Linked DNA regions of Homo sapiens. The protein of the gene in region 3 purifies or fractionates together with the protein of the main gene of each other region. This does not show direct contact. Each region holds a gene or a part of one and is shown on either strand. Other genes may lie near its edges. The genes, in order: CAPN15, SLC12A6, ENTREP1 and SIDT2.

Evidence for each region.
Region 1: the proteins of ENTREP1 (region 3) and CAPN15 purify together in Homo sapiens (affinity purification with mass spectrometry; 3 studies listed by BioGRID and IntAct, with this or other methods). This does not show direct contact.
Region 2: the proteins of ENTREP1 (region 3) and SLC12A6 purify together in Homo sapiens (affinity purification with mass spectrometry; 3 studies listed by BioGRID and IntAct, with this or other methods). This does not show direct contact.
Region 4: the proteins of ENTREP1 (region 3) and SIDT2 purify together in Homo sapiens (affinity purification with mass spectrometry; 3 studies listed by BioGRID and IntAct, with this or other methods). This does not show direct contact.

Annotation. Positions count from the first base shown.
Region 1 is NC_000016.10:523,177-530,857, reverse strand, and holds the start of CAPN15 (calpain-15), read right to left. Parts: upstream 3,147-7,681; 5' UTR 2,829-3,146; intron 1-2,828.
Region 2 is NC_000015.10:34,236,611-34,244,391, forward strand, and holds part of SLC12A6 (solute carrier family 12 member 6), read right to left. Parts: intron 7,463-7,781; coding exon 7,364-7,462; intron 7,332-7,363; exon of another isoform or gene 6,516-7,331; intron 5,612-6,515; coding exon 5,492-5,611; intron 4,728-5,491; coding exon 4,623-4,727; intron 4,220-4,622; coding exon 4,051-4,219; intron 2,551-4,050; coding exon 2,355-2,550; intron 1,792-2,354; coding exon 1,622-1,791; intron 941-1,621; coding exon 809-940; exon of another isoform or gene 780-808; intron 206-779; coding exon 98-205; intron 1-97.
Region 3 is NC_000009.12:69,383,968-69,391,748, reverse strand, and holds part of ENTREP1 (endosomal transmembrane epsin interactor 1), read right to left. Parts: coding exon 7,724-7,781; intron 5,955-7,723; coding exon 5,802-5,954; exon of another isoform or gene 4,066-5,801; intron 3,592-4,065; coding exon 3,299-3,591; intron 149-3,298; coding exon 1-148. UniProt on the Homo sapiens protein: Functions as an activator of the E3 ubiquitin protein ligase ITCH in the ubiquitination of the CXCL12-activated CXCR4 receptor. Thereby, triggers CXCR4 endocytosis and desensitization, negatively regulating the CXCL12/CXCR4 signaling pathway.
Region 4 is NC_000011.10:117,181,120-117,188,900, reverse strand, and holds part of SIDT2 (SID1 transmembrane family member 2 precursor), read right to left. Parts: intron 7,486-7,781; coding exon 7,364-7,485; intron 7,095-7,363; coding exon 6,930-7,094; intron 6,842-6,929; coding exon 6,796-6,841; intron 6,383-6,795; coding exon 6,281-6,382; intron 6,179-6,280; coding exon 6,095-6,178; intron 5,123-6,094; coding exon 5,023-5,122; intron 4,828-5,022; coding exon 4,762-4,827; intron 2,772-4,761; coding exon 2,678-2,771; intron 2,318-2,677; coding exon 2,265-2,317; intron 1,524-2,264; coding exon 1,452-1,523; intron 1,274-1,451; coding exon 1,202-1,273; intron 194-1,201; coding exon 75-193; intron 1-74.

The DNA.
Region 1 (7,681 bases), on a different chromosome or scaffold from region 3:
CTTCCCATGCAGCACTCAGGCAGGCCCCTCAGAGTGTGCAAAGCAACAGCCTGACGCAGCTCATCTTGGGGGGCCCACGGGGTCCCTGCCCTGGGCTAGGATGCCCCCATCCTCCCACAGACCCCATTCCGTGCACCCTGTGGGCCCAGCAGCAGCCCCTGTCCTAGTGGTACAATGTGGCTGTCCACAGACTCCACGCCCAGACACCTCCCTGGGCCACGCACCGGGAGGTCTCCACCCAGCTGTGTGTGACCCACATAGTGACAGGGTGTGGCTGAACGGGTCTAGGTCCAGCCCCAACCCACAGCCTCCCTGCAGCGAGACACACATGCAAAGATCACAGGCCAGCAAGCCTGTTCTCTCAGACTCAGAAACAGGCCGAGCTCAGGTGTGGCCGTGTCCACGCCACAGGGGCTGCTGTGCTACTTTCCTGGAGCACGCAGGAGTCCCCCTGGGCTGCCAGAACCCAGGTATTCAGAACTGCCTGTGGTGAGGGCCAACCCCAGGTGCTCACTGACCGCCTGCTCTGCGCACGGCTGCATAGCGCTAGACACTAGGCCTACCAAGAAACAGAAACGGACCCTGCCCTCGGCGCCACATCCAGCAGGGAGACAGGGCGGTCCCAAGTGTAAGTGCTGCAGGCAGATCCCACAGTGGGGAGCCAGGGACCAGCTACAGGGTCACATGAGAACCGCACAGACCTCAGCGTTCTCTCCAGCGTGGGGCATGAGAGGCCAGTGGCTCCACACAGCTGAGGCACAGCCTGGTGGTGAGAAAACCCACATCCACACCGAGTGGGTACGAGGGATGCGGAAGGGCTTTAGGCAGAGAACAAGTCCCACTGGGCTTCTGGGCACTCCTGCTGTGCCAGGGGTCAGAGGGCAGGACCAGAGGGACAGAGCAGGAAAACAGGAGAGCAAAGCGCACGAGGCAGCCCCCGGGTTGGGGGCCTCCTTCTTCTGTGTCTTATGAGGAAACCACCCAAGCCCACCCTCCGTGTCTCCTGTCATTTCAGCCTCACGGTCCAGGGCCGAGTGGCCACCCAGGACAGACACAGACCTGACAAGTCACCAGCCTTCCTGGGTTTCTGTCACTGTTTTTCAAAGACCCCAAGCTGTTTTGTTTAATGATGTCGTCCTCCTTCTCAGCACCTGTCCACGCCTGTTGCCATGAGTAGAGGCATCACACCGCGGGCCAGAGGGCTGGACCAGGGGCAACTCGGCCACCAACGGCCGAGTTCTTCACTGAGCGGCTCAGGCCCATGAACAACACCTGTGGTTCCGGAGGATTTTCCGGGCAGCAGAATCCTTCCCTCCAATTGCCTCGTGTGAACTGGTGGAACCAGCAGGAGGGAGAGACCAGGCGCTCAGCCTCCCTCGGCCCCTCCCCTGCCATGAACAGCTGTCTCCAGCTTCGGTTCCTCACCTGTGGCACTGGGGTTACCGGAGTGCTGCCCAAGGCCAGGGCAAGAAGCAAGTGAGGGGTGCCCGGAGAGAGAGCCAGCAGGGCTTGAGGCTGTCACACAGATGCAGCATTACAGGGGACCAGCCACTTCCTGCTCTCAGAGACCACGGTCTGTGGAGGCCCAGACAAGAGGCCCTGCGCAGTTATGCAGTTACTGAGCCTCGGGCTCTCCTGGGGACTCAGAGGTCACTGGCTCCTCTGCCAATCAAGGAGCTCTGGAGAGCCTCAGACACAGACAGAAGCAGGAAAAAGAGGGGTGCTCCTCCCGCAAGCAGAAGGACCTCGGAGGAGGCAAGGCACACCCAACCCAAGGCCAGGCCAAGCTGGTTTCCTGCAGGACCTGCCTCCCCCAGACAGGCCAGAAAAACAATTTCTCTTGCCCCACTTCACAGTTGAGAAGTCACTCAGAACCGGAAGGGAGAATCACCCCTATATCCTTGCCCAGCCCCAGACTCTGGAAACGCGGAGGCAATTACGGGGCACTCCCACACTGAACTGTGACTCACGTTTCCGCACCCCTCAGACCTGGGCAGAGGAAGAGATCCGGGTTTCCCGAAGGAGAAGCACACAACTCTTCAGCACCCAACGGAGTCCCAGTCTTCCCCACTGGCCCCACACACCCAGGCCTGGCCTCAGGTTCTGGGCCTCACCATTGCTTTCCGGGTCTTGTTACCTGCAGTCCGGTAACAAACTCCAGAGCAGTAAGGGGGCCCCGAGAGCTCGCCCGGCCAGGGCCAGCTGACCACACAAGAGTTCCCCCGGTCAGGACTAGAGGGGCCCCTTCTGCAGCCAGCGGGAGGACAGCAGATTTGCAACTTCCCAGCTGGTGCCGCAGCAGCCCCAGAGGAACACGGAAGAGAACACTGGCATGGCTGGCACAGACGGGGCTCCCGCCAGCCCCTCCACGCCAGGTGGCCGCCCCCAGGCCGTTCCCCAAGTGAGGGGAGTGATGCCCGCACCAAGCACAACATCCCTAAGGCGGCCAGGACCGCACGATGGGCCCGGATATAAGGGCACTCAAGGGCAGGCAGGGCCGAGGCCGCCTCCGGTGTGCGCGGCCCCCGGGGCTGGCCTCAAGTGACCCACATGGCCCAGGTCCCTGCCGACTTCCCGCCTTCCTCTGGGTTCCTCTGCGAAGCATCGCCCAGCCCTGGCCCCCACCAGCCTGGAGGCGCCAGCGGGCGGCGGGCTGACCCCACTCCGGGGGCCCTGCCGTCCCTGCCCTGGCTCGGAGCCCGGCGCGCCCGGCCCCCGAGGCCTCCTGCGCCCCGCCGAGCCCGCGCTCCCCGCCGCCCTCCGGGCCCGCGCTCCCCGCCCGGGGTCCCCGGCTGGGCGCCCGGCCGGGCCCGGCCGACGGGACTCACCTCCACAGCCCGGCGGCGCCGCCTCGTCCTCGCGGCCCGGGCAGCGCGGCCCCGGCCCCCGGGCCCGCTCGCCCCCGCCGGCCGATCCACAACTTCTGCCTCCGGAGAGCGGCGGGGCCCCTCTCGCCGCCGGCCGCGCTGCCCGGACGGCCTCCCGCTCCTCAGCCGCGGGGCGCCCCGACCCGGCTCCGGCCCCGGCCCCTGCCCGCGTCCGGCGCCCGCCTTACGCTGCCTTCGTAGCGTAGCGCCCGGCCCGGGCCCCGCGGCTACGGCGCGCCCGGGGCGCACGCGGCGCTGTGAATCGCGCGCCCGGACTACGGCTCCCACAGGGCTGCGCGGCGCCGACGGGGCGGAAGCTCGGGGCGGTGCCTGCGCGAGGCAGGCCGGGAGTTGTAGTCCTCGGGTGGCGCCCTCCCAGTCCGCCGACCGCCCGGGCCACTTCTCCTGCCCTCGCTGCTGGAGACGGCCGGGCCCGAGGCCTCGGTCCCCGGGAGGCGCCGCGCTCCAGGATTATCAGGGAGTGGGGCGGCCCGAGGAGGAGCTGGAACTACAACTCCCAGAGGGCCTTGCGAGGGGCACGGAGGGGCGGGGCCTGCAGCCGCGGCGTCTGCGCATCAGCGGCGTCACAGACGCGTGGGGCTCGCGGGGAGCCGGGCTGGGGCCGTCCGTGTCCCGCGGGGCTCTGGGCGGCCGCTCGACCGAGGACCCACGACTCCGCCCCGACCCCGCCGTGTTCGCGAGACCCGGAGACCCCTTCGCGCCTTCCAGGACCGCCCCTTTCGCGACGCTGCGTGCTGTGCTTGGTCCTGGCGGCCAAGAGCGGCGGTGGCAAGGGGACCGCCCTGGCCCGAGACGCGGCCTGGCCTCGCAGCGTCGCTTGGGCACAGCCTCTCTAGGCCCCTTCGTCCTCGGTCGCGGAGGGACGCCATTAAACGGCCACGCCGGGCTCAACTGGGACGCGGCCCACGGCGCCCAACCAGGGCCTGGGGGAGGGAAGCCGGGGCGACTCCTGGGTCCTTCCAGGACCCTTGCGCAGGCCTCATTCTCTCCCCGGAGGTCCCCTTCCCGCTGCCCTGAGGCCACTCTCCTGCCAGCAGCTGCTGGGCCGGCTCTCGGGAGAATGCCTTGGCGTCAAGCTTATCAGGCTGCAGGGCGGGACGCGAGTGCTGAGGGCAGCCAGACTCCCGCTCTTAGGTGCACTTGAGGAGCCTGAGAAGGCAGTGGCTCTGCGGGAGAGGGAGACACAGGAGCAGGGCTGGTCCGCCGAGATTCCGGAGAGACGGTTGTGGGCCGATTCTGTGGCGAGATTTACAAGTGGGAGGTTGGGTGACGATTGCTCCTGGGCCAGAAAATCTAAGCCAGTCTCAGCAAGACCTACAAGGCCAGGGCCAGTGCTCCTCAGAGGATATTCATGCTCCAGGAAAGCCAAGGATGGGCCTCCGTCATGCTGAGATGCCGCAGCAGGGACACCTGTGTCCCACGTGGAGCTCGGCTTCTAGCTGCAGTCAGTGCAGAAGCTGGCAGGAGGGGTTTATTTCTGTCCTCGGAAGCTTTTGGTAAGGACACTTCATTCCTGTGTCTTGGACACCTCCCCCTAGGTCTGCTGCCCCCTCTGTGGAGACAGGCAGGGCAGCTGGATGTGCCGTTTGTTCCCAGACTATATCCATGCCAAAGCATCCCAAGGGCAGGAAATGTGTCCCCGGGGGCCAGTGGGGGTCTGGGGGCACAGAGGGCTGCAGAGTGAGAGCTGGCTCTCCTCTCTGCAACTTGGACAAGGCTCTGGGACCCTGTCCTCCCCAGCTTCCTCACCTGCATGGCAGGATACTGGCCAAGTGTGGCTTTCGAACCACAGGAGAGGGTGCAGTCAAGGCCTCACTCAGGGACCGCAGGTTCTCTTCCCTTCCCAGTCCTTCCCTGGCACTGCCTAGGTGGCTCCCTGGCCAGGGGCCAGTGGTCTAGCCAGCAGGCCTTATAACCTCCCCACCAGAGAGGCAGCTGCAGTTGAACCTGTTGATCTGATGCTGAGGGCCCTGCCAGCTCACTGCAGAGTGGCCAGTTCTGGCCAGTTTTGCTAGGCCAGGCCCATTTGGGGTGAGGAGAGGGTGGGAGCACCCCAGCTCTCCCCAGTAGCCTGTCATGGTGAAGGAGGAAGCCCATTCACCCAGAAGAGGGCCTCAGGAGGCGTCTTCAAGGTGACTGAGGTTTCCCCGCACAAGGAGAGTGCTGGAGGGAATGGGTGCGATGAGAGAAATGAGTCACTCGTGCCTCCGTGAGGCCAGCCTGTGATTGTCTTGAAGATTCTGAGTCACAAGACATCAGGCACACAGGCGTGAATTGTAAATGACTGCACAGCAGAAGGTAAGTGACTCTGGATTATCCAGACCATTGACCGAGCCCTGCTCCGTGCCAGTGCTTCCTGGCCTGAGGACACGACTCTCACATCCAGACAGACCTGAGCAGCTAACGCAAGTGCGCAGAAGCTCGCCAAGTGCCCAGAAGAGCCAAGAGGCGAGCCATGAATCCCCCCTGGAGGAGAAGAGGATGGGGAGGGCCAAACAGAAAGAACTGAAACTGGAGGCATCTGTTCAGGCACCCAGAGAAAGCCTCACGCGCACAAAGCAGCAAACAGAACAAACCCCAGTGCCATCATGGAGCCCAGACTTGAGCACACAGGGACCCTGGCGTGGAGCACGAGGGTGCCAAGGCCCGCAGGTGGCTGACTTGTGTGCTCTGGTGCCATGCTCAGATTTGATGGGATGACCCTGCAATTGCCTGCTTTGTGAGCCACACAGGCCTGGGTCAAAAAGACGACGGACCACCAGCCTGGGCAACACACAAAGCGAAACCTGTCTCCACTTAAAAGATAATTAGGGTGTGGTGGTGTGTGCTTGTGGTCCCTGCTACTTGGGAGGCAGAGGCAGGAGCATCACTTGAGCCCGGGAGGTTGAGGCTGCAGTGAGCTGGGATGGCACATGGCGCTCCAGCCTGGGTGACTGAGTCCGTCTCAAAAAAAGAATGGGCGGCCGGACAGGTGAAAATAACAATGGACGGGGCCCTGGGAGAAGTTCCCGCCTTTCTCTGGGCCACCACCTCCAGGTTACTGGACTGCCAGCAGGTAGAGGGGCCAGGGTGCCATCCGGGGGGCCGCTGAGGGGGTCCAGACTTCCTATACCTGCCCTTCAGCAGAGGCAGGCTGGGGCGGTCCTCATGTGAGGGGCTCTGCACCCACATCCGGGGGGCCGCTGAGGGGGTCCAGCCTTCCTATACCTGCCCTTCAGCAGAGGCAGGATGGGGCGGTCCTCATGTGAGGGGCTCTGCACCCACGTCCGGGGCTCTTGTTCCAGGGCAGGGGCAGAGCCGCTCCTCTCTATCCTGCCGGGCAAGACTCCTTGGTGCTCTTCCATCGGGCAGAACTGACCAAGACTCAGAACATTCAATGTCAGGAGCCAGCTGGGGACAGGATCTGCCTTGGGAGACTTGGCAGGCCCAGTGACCATCCCACTGCACAGCTGGGGGTGGGGGCGACACTCCAGAGGGACACGTTCGGGCCTCCTGGGGGGTGCAGGCTTCTGGGCACGTCCACCAGGCATGCACACCGGCCACCCCACCCTGCTCTCGCTCACCCACAAGGTCTCTGGCAGCCCTTCCGGGAATGTTTCCATTTCATCCTGTGTCCTCCTGTCTCAAACTCCTTTGGGCTGGAGACCCCAGTGGGTCATCGAGGTGGGGCCAGCTGGACTGTGGACAGCCCCATGTTTAAAATCTAGCGTGGAAACTGAGGTGCTCCTAGACCACAGTGGGGTATCAGGAGGAGGAAGCTGCTCCCCTTCCCCTCCCTGGCTCTGGCCTGGCAGCGTGGAGTGAGTTCCCCTCCCCACCTCCAGCTTCTCCCTCTAGGCAGAGATGGGTCTTACTGGCACCACACAGACCCCTGGGTAGGTGGGAGAGCAGGTCTTTTTCCTGGGAGGAGGAACTTGGCCTTGGACACACCCACACCGCCCATGTCACTCCTCAGTTCTTTTTTTTTTTGAGACGGAGTCTCGCTCTGTTGCCCAGGCTGGAGTGCGGTGGCGTGATCGCTGCTCACTGCAAGCTCCACCTCCCAGGTTCACGCCATTCTCATGCCTCAGCCTCCCAAGTAGCTGGGACTACAGGTGCCGGCCACCACGCCCGGCTAATTTTTTTGTATTTTTAGTAGAGACGTGGTTTCACCATGTTAGCCAGGATGGTCTCGATTTCCTGACCTTGTGATCCGCCTGCCTGGGCCTCCCAAAGTGCTGGGATTACAGGCGTGAGCCACCGCGCCCGGCCTGTCACTCCTCAGTTCTAACTCATGAAGCAATCAGGGTTCTTGGGCCCTGTGACCTGGAACCATTCTGCTGCACCTGCACTGAGGGTTCAAGGACTCCTCACTGTAGGCCACGCCTGGTCCTCTTCTGGTCACCAGCCCGCAAGCAGCAGCTGGGCTGAGGGGACTGGCAGACCTGGGTCCTCAGCTTCCCTGGGCCTTGGTTTCTCCATCTCCATCTGCATCTGAGAGTGACAGGCAGGCGGGCATCTCGCGCGGGGGGCGGGAGAGCGAGAGCCGCAGATGCACAGTCCGCTTCCTGGATGCTGGACCAGGTGGTCCAGTTTTCAAGGCTTGTGTTTTTGGGGGACTCTTGATCAGATGGGACCACTCCCCGCAGGCCATTCTTTGTGGCTGCAGTGGCACTGAGCTCTCTCAGACTCCCTGGCTGCCCATGACCTCGGGAGCCCACTTCCGTCGGGACCTGCCTCCTCACCTTCCCGTGCCTGTGGTGCTGGTACTGTGTCTGCCCCCTCTTCTGGGGGATGTCCTCCCACCACCCTGC
Region 2 (7,781 bases), on a different chromosome or scaffold from region 3:
GGATTACAGGCGTGAGCCACCATGCCCAGCCCAGTATCATCCCTTTCAGTGACAGACTTTAGAGAGCACGGATTGGATTGATGCAGTAATGTCTCACCTCTCTGTCTCGCTCTGTTTTGGATAGCCGCATGTGCCGGAGCATCTGGGACCTTTGTTCCATCATCAAAGTGCGCTCGTAAGTATATGCTGATATATCACTGTCATGCTGCCATAGACATCACATAAAAGGGGCAAAAAGCACAAAGGAGAAAGAAGGATGAACCATACATTTTTATTTCCAGTCACTAAATTAAACCAGGGACAGCATCACTATATTAACCTAAGCTTCACCCTTACTTTGTTTAGTCATTGAGCTACATAAATGTTTTTGTGACTGTAGATAAAATTCAGAGGCCCTGAGAGTCTTTTCCATAATCTAACCAAGACATGTGTTGCCTTGAAACACAAAATACAAACTCCAGTCTCTCTTTTTTATACTGTTAGGTTTTTTTTAAAAGCCATGTGTGATTTTAAGCTGAATATATGAATAAAAATTTCATAAAACTATATTAAGCAGATGAGAATCTGGCAGAAATATAAGGGCTGTGTAATAAACAAGAAAGCAAAACCAAAAAATAACATCAAACATGCATCACATATACATTCTACTTAGGGCAACAAATTAGGGTTTTTTTTTGTTTTTTTTTTGGCACTAGGGGATTAATCCACATTTAGATCTGAAAAATTTCCCAAACCAGAAAAGATTCAAGGAAGACAGGGAGAGGAATGGGGGAATGAACCTCTTGTATCTCAAACTCAGCTTTCTCACCATCTCCACCACTTCTACCTCCGCCTCAATGCGTAAGTGATATAGGAAGGTGGCTAGGTCCTTCTTCATTTGGATACTGTTGTCTTCTAATTGGGCTACTGTGAAGATCCGTATGCTGCACTTTCGCCACACCTGAGAGAGTGACATACACATGTGAAAAATTAGAGCAAGGAGGCAAAAAAGGTTATTTCCTAAGACATTAGACATTGTGGTCTAGAAGAACCTTGCTATATGTAGTATAAGGCTATTTGTTCCTAGCTTCCTACTTGCTATGTTATTGTATTAGGGCAAAAGATTGACTAAACACCACATTTAATACAGTTTTAAGGAGTCCTTAATTTCATAACAAGAAAACACTGGCAAAAGAAAAGATGGTTCACGATACGTTAAGAGGGTACTTTATTCAGACAGTGTATCAATGACAACATGCAGACTATATATTTACTATTTTAAATCTCATTTAATTAGTCTTACCACGGAATGAGCGCATATATGCGTGCAATACACACATATACATATACCTTAAGTTTTCAGTATTTTTTAAAAAAAGATGTGTTCACTTGTTGTTTTCCCCTAGGGCTCATATGGAACTTTATTAATTGGCTGAATTTCACTTGGAGATAAGTAGGTATCAAATACAAAGACAATGATTTCTCTTGTTTGAAAGTGGGATCATGGGAAAGCCTAGAATAACTTCCAACTCTTCTGATTCTAAACCCCAACACTATTATAATCAGAGGAAGAATTTGTCTGTCCTGTGAACCAGGACAGAAGGGAGAAAGACTTTTGTAAAAAAAAAGTTGTATAAAATACCTTGTGCTGTTTCAGTAGGAATGGTAGTAGCATAAGCATCCCCCCATCATGCACAATCCACCACACATCAATGTTGCCCTCAGAAAATTGCTCCACATTGCTGGGAAAGAAGGAGATGTTTTTAGCCACCAGCAGTGCAAGATGGGCAGCAGTTGTCACTCGAACTGTGCCTAGGGAGAAAAAAGAATAAGCAGAGAAGAATCCTTAGGCTTGCCTTGCTTCCTAGCATGTCAGGAAAGCAAGGAAATGCTCTTTTCACACTTCTTTGAGCAAGGGGTCCTATTTACTTAGTAGGTTATTTCTCATTACGTATCAAAAACCATTGTGAAAAATCTGAATAGCTAACAGACTGAGAACCACAGTTTATGTTACTAGGTATATTCCCATTACTACATTTCTAAGGGGGGATATGTGAATTTGAGAGATTATGATGCTGAAGAACAATTCTTGCAATTCCTGTGAGAACATCAATATGGAAAATCACAAATGAAAACACGGCAATTTTGGAGATAATTCCTAGCACAAGACTTGACAGAAATAATTCATGAACATAATGTGAAGCTGAAGGGGGTAGGTAGAATCTGGGTATTACTACCAATAGTTTTTCAGGTTGCCTTATAAGACTATGCTTCAGCAATGGCATAGTCTCTACTTTAGGAGGCTGGGGGTGACAGAGATTTAACTATATACCCTCGACTTGGGCCTTTAGGTTTGTATGAGAAATGGTTAGTACCAATAAAAGTCTTCCAAGCGCGGGCATCTTCGCTTTGACGCCAGCCATTAGGCCAGCCCATCACCACCGTGTTGTGCTTCATGCCCCCAAGGCCACATGACTGGATGAGGTGGGAAATGCCCTCTCTCAGCTTGGCGGCCACCACCAGCTGGCAGAATCCTTTTACCTTCTCTGCCTCCATTAGGTGCTTTATGGTCTGAAAGAGACACAGGACCGCAACACTGAACTGGTTCACTCTGGACATTTTAACCCATTGTTCCTTCTCCATATTATATCCCCCACCTTTTTCCAAAGTCTTCATAATACTATATCATCTACAGAAAAGTCCAAAAAGTTAAAATTATCCCAAAGGAATTTCATGATCTTTTGTCTTTTTGCTTACTACGTATTTTTGCCTCTGTAGCTGGTTGTCTACATGTAGTTTCTCTGCTTTTTCCTCTGTTCTGCTTTTGTTCCTTTGCACCATACCAAAAAACTGGGAACAGGGATCTCTACAAAGTGAATATTCAACATTCTTTCTCAGTTGACCAGGGTGATTCACTATTGTGAACACGATCTCCTTCCTGCCTCAGCCCCAGTCATGCCCTGACTCATCTTACCAGAAACTCAGTATGATGATTCAGTTTCACTTTAGAATTTTCTCAGGTATGTTTTCTTTTTCGCCTCTCCCATTCCCATATGCTTTTTGACATTTTAATGGTGATTATTCATGACACTTGTATTTGCATTACTCTTCCTTTATTTAGTCAAACCAATTTGGAGATATCATCTCATTTACTCTTACTCCACCCTGGGAATAATGGTATGGAAAATGGAATGATTTTTGCAAAGGCACAGATTAAATCAGTGATGCGGCTAAGAACTAGGCTCTCCTGATTTTCAATCCTGTGTACCTTTTATTAATTTTTACCATCATTCTGGAGTAATGTTTCTTCAGCATTTCTAGTGTTTAGGATTTCAAAGGATTCCAAAATGAAATCCAGTAAAACTTTTTTTTTTAAATACTTTAAGTTTTAGGGTACATGTGCACAACGTGCAGGTTTGTTACATATGTATACATGTGCCATGTTGGTGTGCTGCACCCATTAACTCGTCATTTACATTAGGTATATCTCCTAATGCTATCCTTCCCCCCTCCCCCCACAGTAAAACTTTTGAAATGCCATTGAACACAATGGCATTTCAAAAACAATAGGATTAGTTCTATCATATATAATAAGTATTAGAGTGAAAACAACTTCCTTGTTAAAGTAGAACTTTAATGTTCAATACAGCTAACCAGAAGTGGCAAAGGAATCTTGCTCATGATACCACGTAGATTAGTAAAGAGGAAGAAAATTTGGTCATTACTCCTTGTTGTCACAAGATTGAGAGGAACCCTCTCCATAGTTCAAGGGATCAATTTATTTACATGACTTTTCTCAGTGCTTAGATTAATGTTTGGAGTATATTTGAACATAAGGTTTAGACTTAATAATCTTATAATTTAGTAATGCTTTAAACAGGAAGAAATAATAAATAACTATTTTTGGCTCATCTTATTATTTGGGAAAAAGTGTCCTTTCAAAGGTCAGCACTAAGTGAGAAACCTCCTAGATCACTCAGGAACAAGATTCAAGTAGAAGTTTGAGGTCTTACTACTTAACATCACAAAGCTGTAAACTGAGTTCCAATACCTCAAAAGCCTGACTCTTACCTGCTCAGCAGCTAAAGCTTCACCGTAGTTCTCTAGGAAGTTCCCCACGATGACAGAGCCCACAATAGTGAGACCTTTTCCTGCTTTGAGCTGTGAGGCAAAGGTGAGGAGGCGAGGATGCTTGACATGTAAGTCTTCATCTAGTTTCAGTAATACAAGCAACTGAGGCCTGTGAAGAGGTTGGTGGGGGTTGGAGGGGAGGAGAAAACATTTTGGGTTTGGGGAACAGAATGACAGACTCCACCCTTTAATTCAGGAGATCTGTATGAAACAGGTAATTTGACAGAAGGAAGAGATCACAGGAGATGACAGGATAAGGGCATTATTTTGAATGCTCCCAGTACTATCTCAAGTTGATCAGTCTTCAAGGAAGAATAATAAATTGTAGAAATCTTGATCATAAACGACATGAAGAAAAGGGAATAAAAAAATTAAGGATTTAGAATAGTTCAAAACAGGTCCATTATACCAATTCCTTGAGCCACATATGGTTTCCTTATCCTAAAATCAACAAAACACATATTTTTGTGTGTTAACCATGTGCCAAATACTGCTAGTGTTGATTTCTTTACCTCCAGTTTTTAGTGTGTGGAGGTCCTTCCTCCAATCGAAGCAAAGCAAACCGGGCTGCACTGAGGGACAGCCCACGGATACCATCACCCCATTCTTTCTCAGCTCTGTGAGAAAAAGAAAAGAGCAGAGACAAATTTAAACTATAGTAAGTATAATTTTAAAAAATAAAGTTTTTTTCTGAATCTAAAAATCACACATGTGCAAGGTAGAAGATTAAAGCTCAGATTAATGATTTACATAATGTTCTTTACTAACATAATGAACCTGATGTAGGTAGATCAACAGCACCAACAGACTGCACTGCACAAACAGTTCCCAATAAAGCCTGAAGGGGTCACTCATTCAGTCCTTCTATGTAATTGTTCAAAACAATAATGTAAAAGAGCAATTTAGATTAGAAAATTATAACAGACCTGGAGTTTAAGTTACTTTGAAAATAATGCAGAGAAAGTAAAGTTCAATGTGATCTTCTGAATAAGAATGTTATTTCGTCCTCATTTTTGAAAGCTGTAAGTCTTAGTAGTTACTAAGTTGTTCAGAACTAATTTCTTTTTCATTTCAGAGACAACCCCTTGACTGAAGAGATAAGCAAAAATATTTACATTTGTGTTGTACTTTGTTTAGTACTAATTATTATTATTTGGAAATGTCCTTTGTTATTTTCCATTGATCCATTCATACTTTCTCAATGGATCTCCCTTGTGATGAAAAGCTTGCATCATTAAGATGGTTAAAGAATTAGGGGTACAAAATATAGTTATGAAAATGAAGTTACCTGAGTCCTTAAGATATTTTCACTGAGCTGGCTCTAACCAAACTAGCTAGTCTTGCTACTTTTAGCAGTGATCAAGATTAAATCCACACTCACCCTTGGTATTCAATGTACTTGTAGATCATACCAGCTATTACCATGGCTACAATGGCATAATACCAGGAAGAAATGAACATCAGAGCCAGACAGATACTCATTCCCATGAAAGAAAGGGCCCTAGAAAATTAAAAACAAAAAAGTATCTTTTAAAGTAGCTGAAAAAGAAGCCTATGTTAAAGGTGCTTCTCAAACTATCTGTGGTGAGGTATTATTTTTTAAAAACTTTGAAACTATTATAAATAGAACTTTTGTAAAATGCAATAAAAATGAATTATTCGAAAAATTATCACATGCCTGGATGCTGTAGCAATGTCAAACTGCCACAAAAGTTTCTAAATGATTATTCTCAATTCTATAGTTGTCTTATCATGAAACAGTCGGTAGATGTGCACTAAACCCCAAACTGTCCTTTGCAACAGAAGATGTTTCCAACTGCTGGAAAACCATATAAATAACGGAACACTATCAGTCATCTGCAGTTATGAGGACAATTAATACTTACTTGGCAAAGCCAGGATGGGACACGCAGCCAGAAATGTTAATAACTCTAGGATCTTTTTAAAAAATTTCATATAAATATTTCTAAAAATTTTATAAATACTTATTAGCATAACTGCAGAACTCACTGAGAAAAATTATTTTTGGGCCGGATGCGGTGGCTCACAGCTGTAATCCCAGCACTTTGGGAGGCTGAGGCGGATGGATCACAAGGTCAGAAGACTGAGACCATCCTGGCTAACACGGTGAAACCCTGTCTTTACTAAAAATACAAAAAATTAGCCGGGTGTGGTGACGGGCGCCTGTAGTCCCAGCTACTCGGGAGGCTGAGGCAGGAGAATGGTGTGAACCTGGGATCTCAGCTCACTGCAACCTCCGACTCCCGGGTTCAAGCGATTCTCCTACCTCAGCCTCCTGAGTAGCTGGGATTACAGGCATGTGCCACCATGCCCGGCTACTTTTGTATTTTTAGTAGAGACGGGGTTTCCCCATGTTGGTCAGGCTGGTCTCAAACTCCTGACCTAGGTGATCCGCCTGCCTTGGCCTCCCAAAGTGCTGGGATTACAGGCATGAGCCACCACGCCCGGCCTCATAAAGAACTTCTAACTAACATTAAAGCTAGAAAGAGGATTTGAGGCATTAAAAATCAGTTGAAGATTTTAATTTTTGCCCAGTAAACGTTACATCACTGCCCACCATTGGTAAGTGAAGACAGAAAGGGAACAAGGAGAAAGTTAGCAAAGAAGAATGTAGCAACGGGTACATACAGGACATAATTAATGAGCTCTGAGCTATAAGAGGAAAGAGATGGGATGGTAGCCAAAAATCTTTCATGATGACCCCTTCAGGACTGGGGAGACTTAACTACAACAGCAGCAGCAGCAACAGTTCATTGAGAGCTGAGCTTTACTATGTATCAGGCACTACGATAAGCACTTTAGATTTATTAGTCCCATTTTACAAATGAATAAAATTAAATTTTACATGGTTATGTGCTTTGCTGAAGGTTACAAAGCTAGGAAATAGTAGAGCTGAGATTGGAATTTAGAACCTCTGACTCTGTAACCCTAAGAGACAAACAGGAAAATAAACATGCAAGAGAAGGTTGTTTTAACCTGAAAATTATAGAAGGCTGGATATCTCTATTTAGTGCTTTTGCTCTATTCGTATTGGGTGTTATAAGTTATTATAAAGTGATATAGGAAAATAGGATAGGAGGATGAGGATTCAGATAAGAATTGAAAGTTGAAACAGTATGAAATGGCTGACCAAGAAAAAAATTTTATCGAGAACCCAGACTCTCCTAGTTTTCTAGTTCAAAGATGGGTTCTCTCCAAACGTGAGTAAAAAGAATAAAAGAAGCAGACTTACCAATGGTAGTAGCGGAATCGGGGTCTCCAGTTGGGTGTTCGAAGTAATGTTTGCAAGGCACATGCCAAGTTTACAAAGAGGTAACACATGAGAAAAAACCTGAAGAATAAAGAGTAAGAGGAATGATTATTACTGGAAGATGATTCTTTGAAGGTTAAGTAACTGAATACCTTTGCTGTATTGAAGCCTGTTTCTAGACAACTAACCCTTGATTAAGTAGGAAGTAGGGAAACTTAAACCTCTCCCCACAAAACTGTTCATCCTTCTCTGTTCTCTCAGTCAATGACACAACCACTCTTTACCCAGTTGTTCTTAGGATAATCCAGGTTTCCTCTTCCTTACCCTTGTTCCAAATTCACTTACCAAGTCCTATGGATTCTATTTAAAAATCTCTTAAGCTGCTTCTCTTCCTTTTCAT
Region 3 (7,781 bases):
CTCGCCGGGGCCTCCTCTCGGCTCGGGGCCTCCCCGCTGGTGTGAAGGTGTGAAGGTCGCCGCAGCTCTGGAGGTGCAGCAGGCCAGGCTGTCTCCGCGAGGGCAGCTTGTGGGCCCTGGATGTGCTGGGCTGCAATGGGGCCATTATCTTTGGGAAAAGAGAGGGGTGGGGAGAAGTTAAGTAAGCTTTACCAGATGTGGCCCTTTGACCTACCTCCTAGGTCCATCCACCTATCTTAATGTGTAATTGCTTTGAAAAAGAAAAAAAAAAGGCATTTTCCCAAAGTGGAACTCACTTGGAATTCCAGAGGTTCTTTGTAAATCCTCCAAATGTTCTACCATGTCCGCTGTAGACCCGTAAACCACACTTAACTGGTTTGTCCGTTGCAATTTCTTGCTTTAACATTCTTCTCATTGCTTTTCTCTAATTTCTCTGAAGTCTAAGTCAGTGATCCTTGCTGGCATCTGAACATTACTACTGGGTCAGGGAGGGACGGGTATTGTCAGAAACATGAATTCTCAGCAAATTGCTACAGAATTCCCATAGCAATGGGGACAGTTAGCCTGGACTCAGGCTCAGGAATCTGTATTTTTAACAAGAATCCAAGTAAGAACCACTGGTCTGGGATTGGGACCAGGTGATGGGTTTATAAAATGTCAACCAAGTATAGGCGCAGTGGCTCACACTTGTAATCCCAGCACTTTGGGAGGCTGAGTCAGGAGGATTACTTCAACCCAGGAGTTTGAGACCAGCCTGAGTAACATAGTGAGACTCCATCTCTACAAAAAAAAAAAAAAAAAATTAATTAGCTGGGCATGGTGGTTCATGCCTGTAGTCCCAGCTACTTGGGAGGCTGAGGCAGAAGGATTACTTGAGCCCAGGAGTTCTAGACCAGCCTGGACAACATCGCAAGACCTCATCTCTACTAAAAATAAGAAAACTTGGCTGGGCGTGGTGGTGTGTGCCTGTAGTCCCAGCTACCTGAGAGGCTGAGGCAGGAGGATCACCTGAGCCCAGGATTTCAAGGCTGCAGTGAGCTATATCTACACCACCGCACTTTAGCCTGGGTGACAGACGGAGACCTTGTTTCAAAAAAGAAACAGTCAACCCAAACCATCCAATGATGCTTCAAATGGATCTGATAATCCTTTAATAAACAATATAAAAATTAGGCCAATTTATTTGTAAAAAGTCTTTAAGAATGATTCTTTTTGCTAGATCTATTTTGCAATGTGTCACAAACATAATTTTGAATATATAATAATATCACTTACTCTGTAAAAATGGCAAAAATATGAAAAATTCCTCATCCAACTGGGATTGAAGAGGAGAGAACTGTCCGGTCAATTTTTTAAAAATTGCACTGCCATGTTTCTTTGACCCATAATACTGTCAGCAGCTTCGGAAAACCTTGGGGCTTTATTGTTACCTAACATCACAGCACAATCATTTGGATGACTTTTTGTTTCATTTGTACCATTCTGAGCCTTTAAGGTCATTAAAAGATTATTCCTCCAAAGAAGGAAAATTAAATTTTATTAACAGTCTACTAATTACATTTGTCTTTAAGGTCTGTCCTTGTCTCCCGATTAAGAATAAAAGTTCAACATTCAAAGAAGTTGACTGTGCTACATAGTAAGTTAGGACAAGTGGTTTTGATATCAGTGAAAATCAAAATGGATCTAAAAACTCCAAGATGCGAAGCCAGCTAGAGTCAGAAATAACTGGTCTCCTTCTGCTGTCCTTACCTCCTTCTGGTGTTCTTACCTCCTTCTACCAGGGAAAAGGTATAGAATTGTGAAAGCTCACCTCTAGGTTCCAGTCCTGGAAGGCCCAGGAGATGGCCCAAAATCTATCACAACAATCTCAGCACCTGAAGTTTTAACCTGCCTGGGGCACAAAGATCTAGCAAACATTTGTGATGATAGCATCTAGTGAACTGTATAAGTGCTTGTTCTTCTTCCCCAGAGCTATTTCTCAGGGAGCAAGACTTTGCAGAAGGTCCAGGCCCACTACCTGGTGAATGCTCCAGCTCTTAGCTCATCAGAGCTTGGCAGCCTTCCAGAAGTGACTCCTGATTATTGGGCTATTGGGGCCGGACAGAGGGAAGGTGACAGACAATGACATCTGGAGTAGCTAAGGGACACCAGGATGTAAAATGTTTTCCCTACATAGGTTAGTAACTGGAGCCTCACCCGGAACCGTCAACTGATCACTCTTTCAGAGTGCAAACCCAAGAGGGTCTGTGGTTCATGTACCTCTTCATGCAAGTAATCAGATCATTCCTCCCCGCTGAATCCCCTGAGGGACTGGGAGAGAGTTTGGCTTCTGGCTTCTGTAAGAAGAGGCCAGCAGGTAGAAAGGGGGAACGGAAGGGACAGTGAGAGGGTATTTACTCAATTTGAATTGAAAATTTACCTACATCCTGAAGTTGGTAATTACCCTGAGAAATTAGCCCACTTCAGTTGAGGAAGTATTTGTTAGCCATTTAATGCCCAAAGACACAGAGCCACAAAACATCCATACGCCATTGTGGGGTGCTGTCTACAACATCCACCCCACTACCTGCAGCAATGAAGCCAACACCTAAAAGGGAATGGCTCTTAAAAGAGGTGGAGAGAAGGCTCTTACCAGAAGGAAACTCCATTCATTCAAAAATAAAGGTAGAGAGACTACCTAGTCCAACCATTTACTTTAAAGAGGAGAAACCTGAGACCCAACTGGATTATGTTCATGCCCAATTCTATCTTTTCCCCAAGTGGCTTCAGTTTCGGGGATTGCCTTGTACTTTTTAATCTACAAGAAGAAAAGGTGCTTATTCCCTTAGGACCTGTTGGCTTATTTATCTTGCCAAACATTTCATGGGAATGTGAACAGCCTCTTAGAATCTTGTTGATATTAAAATTCACCTATGTCATCATTTCCAAAGGGCTGAGAAAACATGCCCTATCAAAGGAAACCTTCAATTCAGGAAATCAAATGTTGAATGCACTCCACACTGTCCACATCCTCCGCTTTTATTCCTAGGATGCACTCTTTAATTTTCCCAGACATGCTTCCACATCCCAGAAAAACTGGGTTCTCTTCCCTTGAGCCAAGAATGATGTGGGAAAGTTACCACACTTGAAAGAAAGCTCCCCGGCTTCCTCTGTCTCCCTCCCCAGAACTCTCAACCCAATTTCCCTGAAGACTGTGACCATGAACTTACTCTGCCTTGGACAAGAAAGCGGAGAAGCCACTTTAGCTGCTATGAAAATGAGTCATCTGATTCATGCCTGAGATTAATAATAAAACTACCTGTTCTAGAAAACTGGCACTTGTGATGGCTTCCTCCATGTGCTCCTCATCAGATTTCAAAACAGATTTAATGTTTTCTACAAGTTCATGGATGTCTGGGGTCATGGTACAAGAGGACTGCTCCAGGAACCTCGCCACCAGCAGCTTGGTGTCCATGTAGGATTTGTAATCTATCAAAGACCGCGGTCTGCATCGCGAAGCTCTAGATCTCAAGCCTCTCCTCAGAGTCACTGCAGCCAGATCCAGTCTCCTTTCAGTCTGTGTTGCAGCTTCACAGCTGAGCACTGGGGCAGCTGTGGGCAGAAACAAACAACATGTACCCATTGGCCAACCCCTTTTGAACATATGCCTGTACCTGAAAGCACAGACCACAAAACTCAACATGGAAAGCATCTGACAAATGCTGATAGCCATGCACATCCTGCTTTTCATCTTGCAGAAGGAGGGAAAACAACACAAGGTTATTCCCTGAAGTCCAGTTCCAATAGGATATGGCCCGAAACACGTCATTGTGTCATGTACGACACCACCCCCAAGGTAAAGCCAGATGGTGGAGAGGAGAATCCAGAATGCAAACCATAATGAGGTTAAGTTTCATGGGGTATGACAAATAGATGGGGATGGATGGGCCAAGCAGGAAAAATGTGGCTGACCAATGAAAGGATGTTCCAAGGAGCGAGGATGAAGTAGTCAATTAAGAGAGGAAGGGGCTGAAGAGAGACAAGACTTGTCAGATGAATGTAATGCTCTGATCACTTTGACTATACCTTTGTCCCAAACGTCCTCAAGGACGTTGTACTGACTTGTGTTATCGATGCTCACACCATGGATATGAGGTAGATCTATAGCTATTACCAAAAGAGAAATTTAGGTGCAGAAAAAGTACACATCATTCTGGAAGTCAACAGAGAGCCTGGGAAATCCACTGCAGGCTCTAATTTCCATGGCTGCCTATATCAGCAAGGGTGTAAAGACCAGCAATGCTTCTGCACTGTGAAGTGTGTGAAGCAAAACTCAGATCTGGTCATTATGTGTCCAGAAGTCAGCCAGCAGCCTTCAGCATACACAACATTGGCATCTTCAGTCTATGAAGGCCTGATAAGCAGCAATTTAGAAATTCAAAGAAGACAAGAAGCAGGGGGCGAGAGAGCAGGTGGAAGAAGGGGAGCACCCCCTTTCTTCTGGAGAAAGGCAGGTGTGGGGAGCTCTAAACCAGGATTCGAGACTGTCCTCTCAGGCAGCCATATGCACGTCACAGACAGCAAGAGTCTTCCAGAAGCACTCGCCAAAGACACTCGTGTGAGGACAGAGTCAGGGTCTCCACTCTTCCACTTGAAGGCAACCTGGCGCCTTCCACAATGGAGGGCTCCAGCAGCTGCTGTTCTTGCCCCCGCAGGTCTGCAGAATGAGAAGGGGTTCTGGAAAGATTTCCCTAAGCTGTGCAAACAGCTAAGTTCCCGTTGAGGCTGGAGTCCTCAACTTGCCAGGTAGGGTGTAGGAGACCCACAGTGAAGGCAGGTCTTGGGAATCAGAAGCCAGGCTGCCTGGCCACTGTGTTTCAGAGACACGCTCAGTACCAGGCGGCAGGACTTCCTCTCCACTTAGAAGCTGCTGTAGAGACAAGAGGAATGTTCTCTCTGGCTCGCACATGGTCAGTCCAGAGCTGTGGCAAATAACACACACTGTCAGAGAGCCAGAACTGAGACTGCAAGGGCTCAAGACAGGACCTTAGAGAGAGCAGGGTGGAGGATTATCAAAGTTTTATTTGCATAGGTGTTTTAGAACAGCAGAGGTCAACTCTGCTAGACTACTTCACAAGAAGAAGCTGGTGCTGGTGGAGTTACAGGAGATTTTAATTTTCTTCCTTTAGTTTCTTTATTTTTTATAATTTTCTACAATGAAGAGATATTTAGAGATGTTCAGGTATTCATATATTCAGAAAAAAGTCAGTGTTATTATTTTAATTTTTAATTATTCAGGTAACATCTATACACAAACAACACAGAGAGAGAGGTGAATTGTGTGGGTGCGTGTACTTCATTCTATCCAAAGTTCTAAAAACAAGGTCAGATTTCAATAATTCAATCATCTACTCATACATAGTAAAAATATAACAAATTATAAAAGAGGGAGTATACAAAAATCCTTTTGACTTTTTTTAAGACAATGCATATTCCTATAGGATTGCAGCATCTAGAAATCAGAACTAGGTGTGCATAATTGTCTTCATGTAGTACCTAGCATAGTATCATGTACAACCAAATTCTTTTGATGACAATGACTTTAAAAAAAAACAAAAAAACCCTACCATCCTTAAAAGACATGGTAGATATATATTCCTAACATGGACGTAGAATATTTTACTTTCCCAAGACCTCATAAGCTCCTTCAAATGACCACTTAAACTGCAGGGTCCTGAGCTGGCCAGAGCCACCTGCCTTCACCTGGCTCCTTTAGGCAAATAAGCACACAGCCCTGCGAAGAGCTTGGGGAATGACATCACCTCTCTCCTCAGAAGGATGGAGCACAGGGTCACTCTTCGACCTGGTCCTCAAGGGTGGGAGGGCTCTCCGGCTTCTGATAGGACGCACCAGGGTTGAACTGGGAGTTGAGGTGGATGCATTTTCTTCGGCAGGTATGTTAGGAATGTCCCCATCTGATTTAAAAAAAAAAAAAAAAAAAAAAAAGAGGCGAAACATAAATTATCTCACCAGCTGCAGTCCTCAAAATGGGCAGGAAACACCTGGGAGCCTAAACCTGCCAGGGCAAGGGTAATGCAGTTAATAACATTTACTCAGGCTGCTGGCCCAGTAAGTTTTTACATCACTGACTACAGGAAAACTTGCCTTTCCAAACCACCCCTCCACACCTAAAACAAACAAACAGAAAAATTTAAATCCAAGAGCAAAATAAAGGAGCCATGCCAAAATGGCAGGGGTTTTTTTTTCCTAAAGGTGCTTAGAATCTTCTCCAGGGAAGCATTCTGGGGCAGTACTGAAAAGCACCCTGACATCTCAGGATAAGCCTGGTTCTGGGGAAGGTAATACCAGCACAGGTGAGGTGGCTGCTCTGTGGGCTGCAGAACTCCCGGAAGGCTAAGTTAGAGAGAGTCAAGTGGCCACTAAACAAATCCGTAAAACCCCGCTGGAATTGGATAATTTATGCTCATGAAAATAAAACTGTGAGCCTGAGTTGTAATTCGAGAAACTGTTTTTAAAAATGGAAAAATTGGCTGGGTGCAGTGGCTCATGCCTGTAATCCCAGCACTTTGGGAGGCTGAGGTGGGTGGATCACCTGAGGTCAGGAGTTCAAGACCTGCCTGGCCAACATGACAAAATCCCATCTCCACTAAAAATTCAAAAACTAGCTGGGCATGGTGGCGGTGCCTGTAGTTCCAGTTACTCGGGAGGCTGGGGCAGGAGAATCACTTGCACCCAGGAGATGGAGGTTGCAGTGAACTGAGATCGTCCCATTGCACTCCACCCTGAGCAAAAGGAGTAAAACTCTGTCTCAGAAAAAATAAATAAAAATAAAGTTAAAAAAAAAAAAATGGAAAAATTATGAACATACTTAGGAGACAGAACACTGCTTCATAATTAATTCTACTTAGGATGGAAGGTGAACAGAACACAAAGTATTACATTACAAATAGTACTGCTGAAAAATTACCTTCATCTAAAATTGCTAAGAGTTGATCCATTATTTATCACCATTGTGATTTTGTCCTGGTGGACAATCCTCTGGGCCACTTAAAACCTCCCCAAAGAGAGAAGGCCATAACAATGTTCCCTTAAAGTACAAGGATAAATGTAAACTGACTCTAGTACTTACTGCAGTACTGAAAACCAGAATTCATTAGCTGCTCGGGCAGCATGACCTGGGCCCTAGGTTATAAATGACACAGCACAATCTTACCACAAATCACCTTGCAATAGAGGAAACTTTTTTTCCCCTGACAAAAGTCTAGCTAATTTTAATTAATAGGAGGAAGAAAATCATAGATCAGAAAACACAGGAATATCAATCAAACTCTGTAACCTATTTCATGGTTCCTGAGAATAGTCTGGTTCATAAAAAATTCCAAGGATATCTTTTTTCAGTTCACATATTTTCTCCCATTTATAAGCCCTAATAGTTGATGGTATTTTTGTATCTGGAGAAAAAGGTGTAGCTTGAACTATTTGCTCCAAGAATACCTGCCCTCTAACACAATACCAGACAGGATCATTATTTTATCATTTTTTTTTTCCGTTTGTAGAAATAGGGTCTCTCTCCATGTTGTCCAGGCTGGCCTCAAACTCCTGGCCTCATGTGATCCTCCCACCTCGGCCTCCCAAAGTGCTGGGATTACAGAGATAAGCCACCTTGCCCAGCCTATTTTATCATGTTTTAATCTACTGAATCATGTCACAATGTATCTATTACCTTGAGTCACTTGTGTGCAGCCCAGATCCAATGGGATCACAGCAGCTTCTGATCCTTC
Region 4 (7,781 bases), on a different chromosome or scaffold from region 3:
AACATGCTGGGGCGGGAACGCAGAATGTCCCTTTCTCAGGAAACGCCTGACCAGGCCAGGCCCACGGGTCAGACCTTGGTGCGAATGACATTCTTGTCGGAATCGATGTCGGTCAATGTGTCGTAGTCATCCTCCTCCACAGAGCTCATGGAGTCCACTCGGGGCCGAGTACCTACAGGTTCAAAGGAGCGGCCTGGAAAGGGCAGGGAGGGAGGGGTTGCACCGGTGGACACAAAACCCACAGTGGCCCTCGCCCATCTGAGGCAATTGTAACAATTATTAGGCAGTAGGGAAGAGGCAAATTGTGGGCTGGGCCTCAGAGTTGGGGTGGAAGTGGGCTCAGGAGCTGGGAGGAGACATCAGGTGCTCCTAAGTCCTGGGGGATGATGGTAGACTCTAGAAGAGGCCACCACACAGGGGCCGCTCTAGCTTTGCTCTGTTCCTGGCACCCCTCATGGGCTAGGGCTTCCCAGGCCAGGACACAAGGCAGACCCCAGGCAGCAGACACAAACAACAGGATTGAACTCGGCAAGTCATGCTGATTCAAGGGTGCCCAGCCCTGTGGGTTCTGAGAAGACACTGCCTTGGCTGCCACTGGGTTAAAGACCCAGTGGGCCTGGGGTGCAGAAAGAGCATTTCTCCTTTATCCAGAGGCCAGAATGTGACCCCCATGCCTGTGAGCCCTCCCCAAGCAGGCCAGGGAGTGAGGGCGCTGGCAACGCAGACGATAAACTAGATTGTCCAGCCTGGAGAGAGCGGAGGCGCCAGCCCGCCAGCCAAAGGAGCCTGTGCTCTGCTGCTATCTCAGAAGACACAAGAGCGGGCAATTACTGGAATTACATGGGGAAGCCATGCACATAGAATCTTTCTGGCCCCACAGCCGGCAGTCAACCGGAGCCGGCAGGCACTGATTGGCAAAACAGCCCTACCCCCACCCCAGGTCTACCCATGGCAATGCACAGCTGCCGCATCTGGCCAGAGGGGAGGCGCCGCTTGAACTGGTCGTGCCCTTCAAAGGAAAGGGAAAGTTACCAGGGAACTGGGGCCAAGGAGGAGGGGATGAGGGAAGAGAGGGGTTAGGAAGACAGCAGGCCCTTCCCAGGTTCCAGCATCTGGCAGAAGAGGCAACCGCCCACCGTGACATTTTACCCAGACAACACCGTCCTGCACCACACCGCCCCTCCCAGCCTGGCCCACTCACCCTGGTAACCGTAAGAGAGGTCCCCAGTGCCAGCGCTGTCAACCAGACCATCGGTAGATCCAGAAACATTCTCTGTGGGGAACGATCAGTGGTGAGGCAGGAAGGAGAGGCCGCAGGGAAAGGGGCTCTGAGCATCTGCAGAGGGTGTGGGGGCTGGAGGAGGTGGCTCCCACTTTACCGCCTCGGAGGTGGTGGCCTAAGGAGACAAGGTCATGTCCCCAGCAAGCACGGTGCTGGCTTTGACACGTACCAAAGGAGCCATAGTTGTAACCCTCATAAGGGGAACTGCCAGGAAAAGAATCAGCCAGGACTCGAGGGTGACCTGCAATGAGAAGTCAAGGTCTGTTAGCACTGGACGAAGAGAGAGGCCTAGAGCCAGGGAGAAGAACAAAGAAAGGTCCAGAGAAGACAGCCACAGGGAGGCCATGCCAGCAGACGAGAAGCAGCACCTATCCAGGCAAACACACCCCACTGCTGCCACCACCACCCGCCCCAGCCCCCTGCCTGCCTCTCCCATGGAAACAGCACCACCCTTTGTCTTCCCTAAGGAGAGAGAAAGTTCAAGAACAGGCACATCTAAGTTACCAGCAACAAAGACAACACTGGCCCGCCCACGAGCCCTCCAGACAGCCCTGTGCTGCACCCTCCCTCCCCTACTCTGGACTCCAGCTCCTCTGCCCACAGCACCTGGAGCTTACCAAGGAGAGAAGCTAAGAGAGAAGGTCCCACGCAGGAGGGAGGACAGAAAGAGAGGGAGGGGTGGAAGAGAGAGAGAAGGAAAGGTTAATAATCCCAGAGACCGTGGGCCACACTGCCCAAGGCAGGCAGACACCATCGCTAGACATGGAATAAACCAAGCAACACCTCAGCCTCTGAGGTGTGCATGTTAGGGATGCATGGACATCATATCCCAGCCTCATTCCCATCTGTGGAGTGTTACCCCCATCTGAACATCCAGAAACCCCCAGCCCTTCCTCCTCCAACCCCCTAGGGAACCATCCACCACCACCCCCCAAAACACAAAGCACACTGTGCCCGCCCCACCCAGGCCCCCTGGAGGTACCGCTTTCTGGGCAGGCTCGGTCAATGGCCACCAGCAGGGTCTTCTTCTTCTGCCTGCATGGACAGAACCCACAGGCCACCCAGATGGGACAGGACAAGGATCACTCTGTATGGGGCTGACTTTCCTTCTACCTCTCTGCTCCACTCTCATCGCTATGACCCTGTCCTCCACCCTTTGTCCCAGGGTTCCTCACAGGCTGGGGAGCAACATGGGATCTCCCTGCTTGGGAAGAAGGTTGAGGGGAGGGGATGGTTTCTAGAGAGGCTCATGGGCCACAGACTCTAACAGCCCCACCATCATCTGCTATGGATGGTGTAGATTACCCTAGGCTGGCTCAGATCCTGCCAGGTGATCTGCCCCACACACCTGCCCAAACCACCCAGACCAGGGGAGGCCCAGCAGTTCCACTTTACCTCCAGTTCTCCCAGCAGGCCAGGAGGACGGTCAGCAGGTAAAAGGAGAGAAATATACCCAGGCAAAAGAGCATCCCACTGACGTATGCCTCAGCTTCAAGGAGGAAACAGGAAGGTGGACAGGTCAAAACCTTCCACCACCTCCCATCATGGCACCCAAAGGCCTTCATGTCCTCCTCCACCCAGCTCAATCTCTCACCCTTCTCCCCTCAAATGTAAGGCCCTGCCTAGCCAGTATGAACAACTGGCAGTTCCTCTAATACACCAAACTCTGACACACTCCTATTTTTGCTCATGTTGCTCCCTGGGCTAGAACTTTCTCTTCTACTTTTTTTTTTTTTTTTTTTTTTTTGAGACGGGCTCACTCTGTTACCCATGCTGGAGTGCAGTGGCACGATCATAGCTCACTGCAGCCTCCAACTCCTAGGCTCCATCCTTCCACCTCAGCCTCCTGAGTAGCTGGGACTACAGATGTGTGCCACCACGCCTGGCTCATTTTTTTATTTTTTATAGAGATTGGGTCTCGCTATGTTGCTCAGGCTGGTCTTGAATTCCTGGCTTCAAGCAATTTCCCTGCCTCAGCCTCCCAAAGTTCTGGGATTATAGGCGTGAGCCACCGTGCCTGGCCTCTCAAAAATTCCACCTTGACTTAACCCTCAAACCACAGCTCAGGGACTGTGTCCTCTAGGAAGCTTTCTCTGTCCTGTATTTCCACAGTGACCTGTTCCTTGCTCACCACAGCTCTTAACTGCCTCCTGTTCCTCTAGACAGGACCCCGCCCCCACCAAGGACTGCTGCCTTAGCATACCACCTGGCATATAGGAGGTGCTCCATAAATATTTGCTGAATAAATAATCCATGTAAGAGAGGCACCCTGGCCGGGCGCGGTGGCTCACGCCTGTAATCTCAGCACTTTGGGAGCCGGGGCAGGTGGATCACGAGGTCAGGAGATTGAGACCATCCTGGCTAACACGGTGAAACTCCTTCTCTACTAAAAATACAAAAAATTAGCCGGGCGTGGTGGCGGGCACCTGTAGTCCCAGCTACTCGGTAGGCTGAGGCAGGAGAATGGCGTGAACCTGGGAGGTGGAGCTTGCAGTAAGCCGAGATTGCGCCACTGCACTCCAGCCTGGGCAACAGAGCAAGACTCCATCTCGGAAAAAAAAAAAAAAAAGAGAGAGAGAGAGAGGCACCCTCTGGCTGGGCACGGTGGCTCATGCCTGTAATCCCACACTCTGGGAGGCCAAGGTGGGCGGATCACCTGAGGTCAAGAGTTCAAGACCAGCCTGGCCAACATGGTGAAACCCCCGTCTCTACTAAAAATACAAAAATTAGCTGGGCATGGCGGCAGGTGCCTGTAATCCCAGCAACTCAGGAGGCTGAGGCAGGAGAATCATTTGAACCCGGGAGGCGGAGATTGCAGTGAGTAGAGATCTTGCCACTGCATTACAGCCTGGGTGACAGAGCAAGAGTCCATCTCAAAAAAAGAAAGAGAGGCACCTTCTTTCCCCTCCTATCACAGTCCCTTAGGGCCCCATTTAATCATTCAGTAAATATTTATTGAGCACTGAGTAGGGGCCTGGTACTTTCCTGCTAATTTTATCTGCTAATTTTGTGCTAGCCCTCATAACTTAGTGAGATTAACTGGACAAATTTTACTCCCTCTGTTATAGAGACAGGGAAACTGAGACTCAATCTTATAGCAGTGTTTCAATGACAAATTAGGGTATGTTTCTGAATATGAGATTAAGAAACATCCTTCAGAATAAATAAGATTATAACTATGCTAACAAAGCAAAATTAAAGCTCTTTCTTACAATCAGGTTACACTGCTGATAAGTGGCAGAAAGTGAACTGGACCTCAGTTCTTCCATCTTTAGTCATGAACTCTCTGTACCACATCACACTGGAACTCACCTCCCGGCCCTCCCCATCTAGAAGCCTGCCAAGAACACTCCCCGTTCCTACCCCACCAGCATATCTGCATCCTCATCACCCACTTCAGGGCACACCCTATATCCCAGGTCTGAAAGCAGGAGCCAGAGAGGCTTGTCCATCCCCTCTCAGCCACCTGCAGCACTCACACGTGACTGCTTGAGACACCAGCACTGACAGGGTTTTCTGGCGGTGCCCTTGATCGACCGGTTCATCTGGAAGTAAAATGTCAAAGTGGTAAACTAGTTGCCTGGAGCTTGGCTAGAGTCAGTGGGATCAGGCCTTTGAGAGACTGGAGCCAAAAACCCATGTCCTATCAGGTCCACCAATCAGCCACGCAGGCTCTTCTTGCTCCCAGAAAGTGACCAAGACCTCCCCATCCCTAGCCAGGCCCAGGGCACAAAATGTACCTTCTGCGAAGGGGTAGAAAGGCAGGGAGCCCCCGCAGGCTTGGTCTTCGGTCTTCACCACCACCACCACATAAAAGCTGTTGCTGGGGAAGTCTTTGCGCTGCAGGATGATGATGATAAATATCTTCTTCATCATCATCATCATCATTCTTTTCTAAATACTTGTTCTGGGGCCAGACATTATGCTAAATTCTTCATAGATATATTTTACTTAATCCTCACAAGATTTTTTTTTTTTTTGAGACGGAGTTTCACTCCTATTGCCTAGGCTGGAGTGCCATGGCATGATCTCAGCTCACTGCAACCTCCGCCTCCCGGGTTCAAACAATTCTCCTGCTTCAACCTCCCAAGTAGCTGGGATTACAGGCGTCCATCACCACGCCCAGCTAATTTTTATGTTTTTAGTAGAGATGGGGTTTCACCATGTTGGCCAGGCTGGTCTTGAACGCCTGATCTCAGGTGATCTGCCCGCCTCAGCCTCCCGAAGTGTGGGATTACAGGCGTGAGCCACTGCGCCTGACCTTTTTTTTCTTGAGACAGAGTTTCACTCCTTTTGCCCAGGCTGGAGTGCAGTGGTGTGATCTCGGCTCACTGCAACCTCTGTCTCCCAGGTTCAAGTGATTCTCCTGACTCAGCCTCCCGAGTAGCTGGGATTACAGGCATGCGCCACCATGCCCAGCTAATTTTTCGTATTTTTAGTAGAGACGGGGTTTCAGCCTGTTGGCCAGGCTGGTCTTGAACTCCTGATCTCAGGTGATCCGCCCACCTCGGCCTCCCAAAGTGCTGGGATTACAGGAATGAGCCACCGCGCTCAGCCCTCTTATTGTTACAATGAATGAAGTAGGTATGACAGCCAGAAGGGGGTACTCTACTCTTTCCCATCCCCAAGAGCAACTGGGATTATGGTACAACTCTCATATATATCAGGGGACTCAAAGTCACAGGGACTGGAAGGCCAAAGACTCAGTCGTGTGTAGGATAGGAATGGGCAGAGGAAGAAGAGCTCAAGTTTGGAAAGCTACACAGCTTATCGCCCAGCCACACCTCCCACGTGGCCACATGCATTTCCTACCTGTACGGTGATGGCCGCCTTCTTGGTCATCGTCTGGTACATGCCGATGAAGGCTACGTTGTTGTCCAGGTCATAGACAGGACACTGCAGAGGGGCGGGAGAGGCAGATGGATGGGAACCTGGCCTGCCCCTCTCTTTAGCAGCCCTGCTGCCTGCTGGGGAAGAGCAAAAGGGCAGGCAACTCACCAGCACATCCTGAATGGAGATGACTGAGCAGGGGAAGGCCTTGTTGGAGGTCACCTTGACAATTACCGAGTCCACGCCTTCAGGGAACTCATACTTGAAGTACTGAGGGTGCAGGAAGGAAGGGAGAGCCCCATCTCATGAGGATGCTCTCTTGGCCCCTCTAGAAGGGAATAGTCCCCTATAAGCGAGGACCCAGAATCCTCTGAGGGGTGGGCAGTGGAGGCTCTCCGAGGAGACAGGCCTTGATCACAGCAGCCCCTTTCTCTGTATACCATTCCCTTCAACCTCAGCAGGGCACTCAGCAGAATGCCAGAGAGGCAACCAGACTCCATGTCTCTGTACAGTCCCATGCTGTCTGTCCCTCACCATGTCAGGGCCAGAGCTCCTGTTTCCAGAGAGCCCTCCATGGAGAAAACAGCCAATTCAAAAGGCCAAGCAAAGACCGCTGGCCACTCCCATTCTCATATTCAAGCTCCCCCATTTCTCCTCTCGAGCAATCAACAGGGAGATGTTACCTGGGGCTGTGCTGCTGTGGTATTGAAGCTGAACTGCTCCCCAGTCCTGCAGGGCAGAGAAGAGCCCCCACCAGTCACCCCCGGAGCCTGGGGAAGAACCAGCCCCCGTGGTCCCCTCACTCTACCCTGCAGACCTGAGCACAAAATCGTCCATGCGGCTGACCCGGAGCTGGTATGTGGTGTTGACTGGTGACAGGGTGGACACATCCACGTAGAAGAACTGAATCTCCGACTCATTCTTGGTGGGGGGCTGACACAGGGTTCGTTCCACTTTTTGGTAGAGGTACTTGCGCTGAAACCTATGGCCCGAAGCAGGGAGATAGGATGTGAGCACTGTCCCAGCCGGCCTGCCCCTCCAGAGGAGCGAGGCCCCACCTCGCCCCGTCTGGTCTCCACCACCTCCCTGCGAGGTGCACAAGCTCCCGGCTGGTGGGACTCGGCCCTTGTGCTGTTGACCAGCCTCCCAGCCCAGGGAAAGGGGAGGAGAAATGGGGGGGCTCCTGGTTGAGGCTCCAGCCAAGGACTGGCCTAGGCTGCCCCGCTTCCCTGATGCCCAGATCCTACTCACATCCCTCGCAGGATTAGGGGCACCTGGAAGGACACCACAGCCTCCTTCTGGCGGACCACAAACAGCAACGGCGCCCCCTTCTGCTTGTTCAGGACGTTCACAGACACACGCACGCCCTCTGTCTGCAGAACGACATGGAAATGCCTCTCAAGCCTCTGCCACCAGGGACACGTGGCTCCAGAGACTATGAGCCCTGCCCTCCTTCATGCCAGCTACTTTGGTCTTTCTCCATCTTGGTCGGGCCAGGGAGTCATCTCTGCCTCTTCTTCTGCCAGAACAACCCCCAGACTCCAGGAAAGACCTGTGCTGAGTGCAGCTCCTGGCCGGCAGACATGTGCAGGGCAGCAGGACCCAAGCAACCGCAGGGTCTCACCCTCTGCCAGGAAACACGGTGGAGGCCTTGCGAGTCTCCAGGATA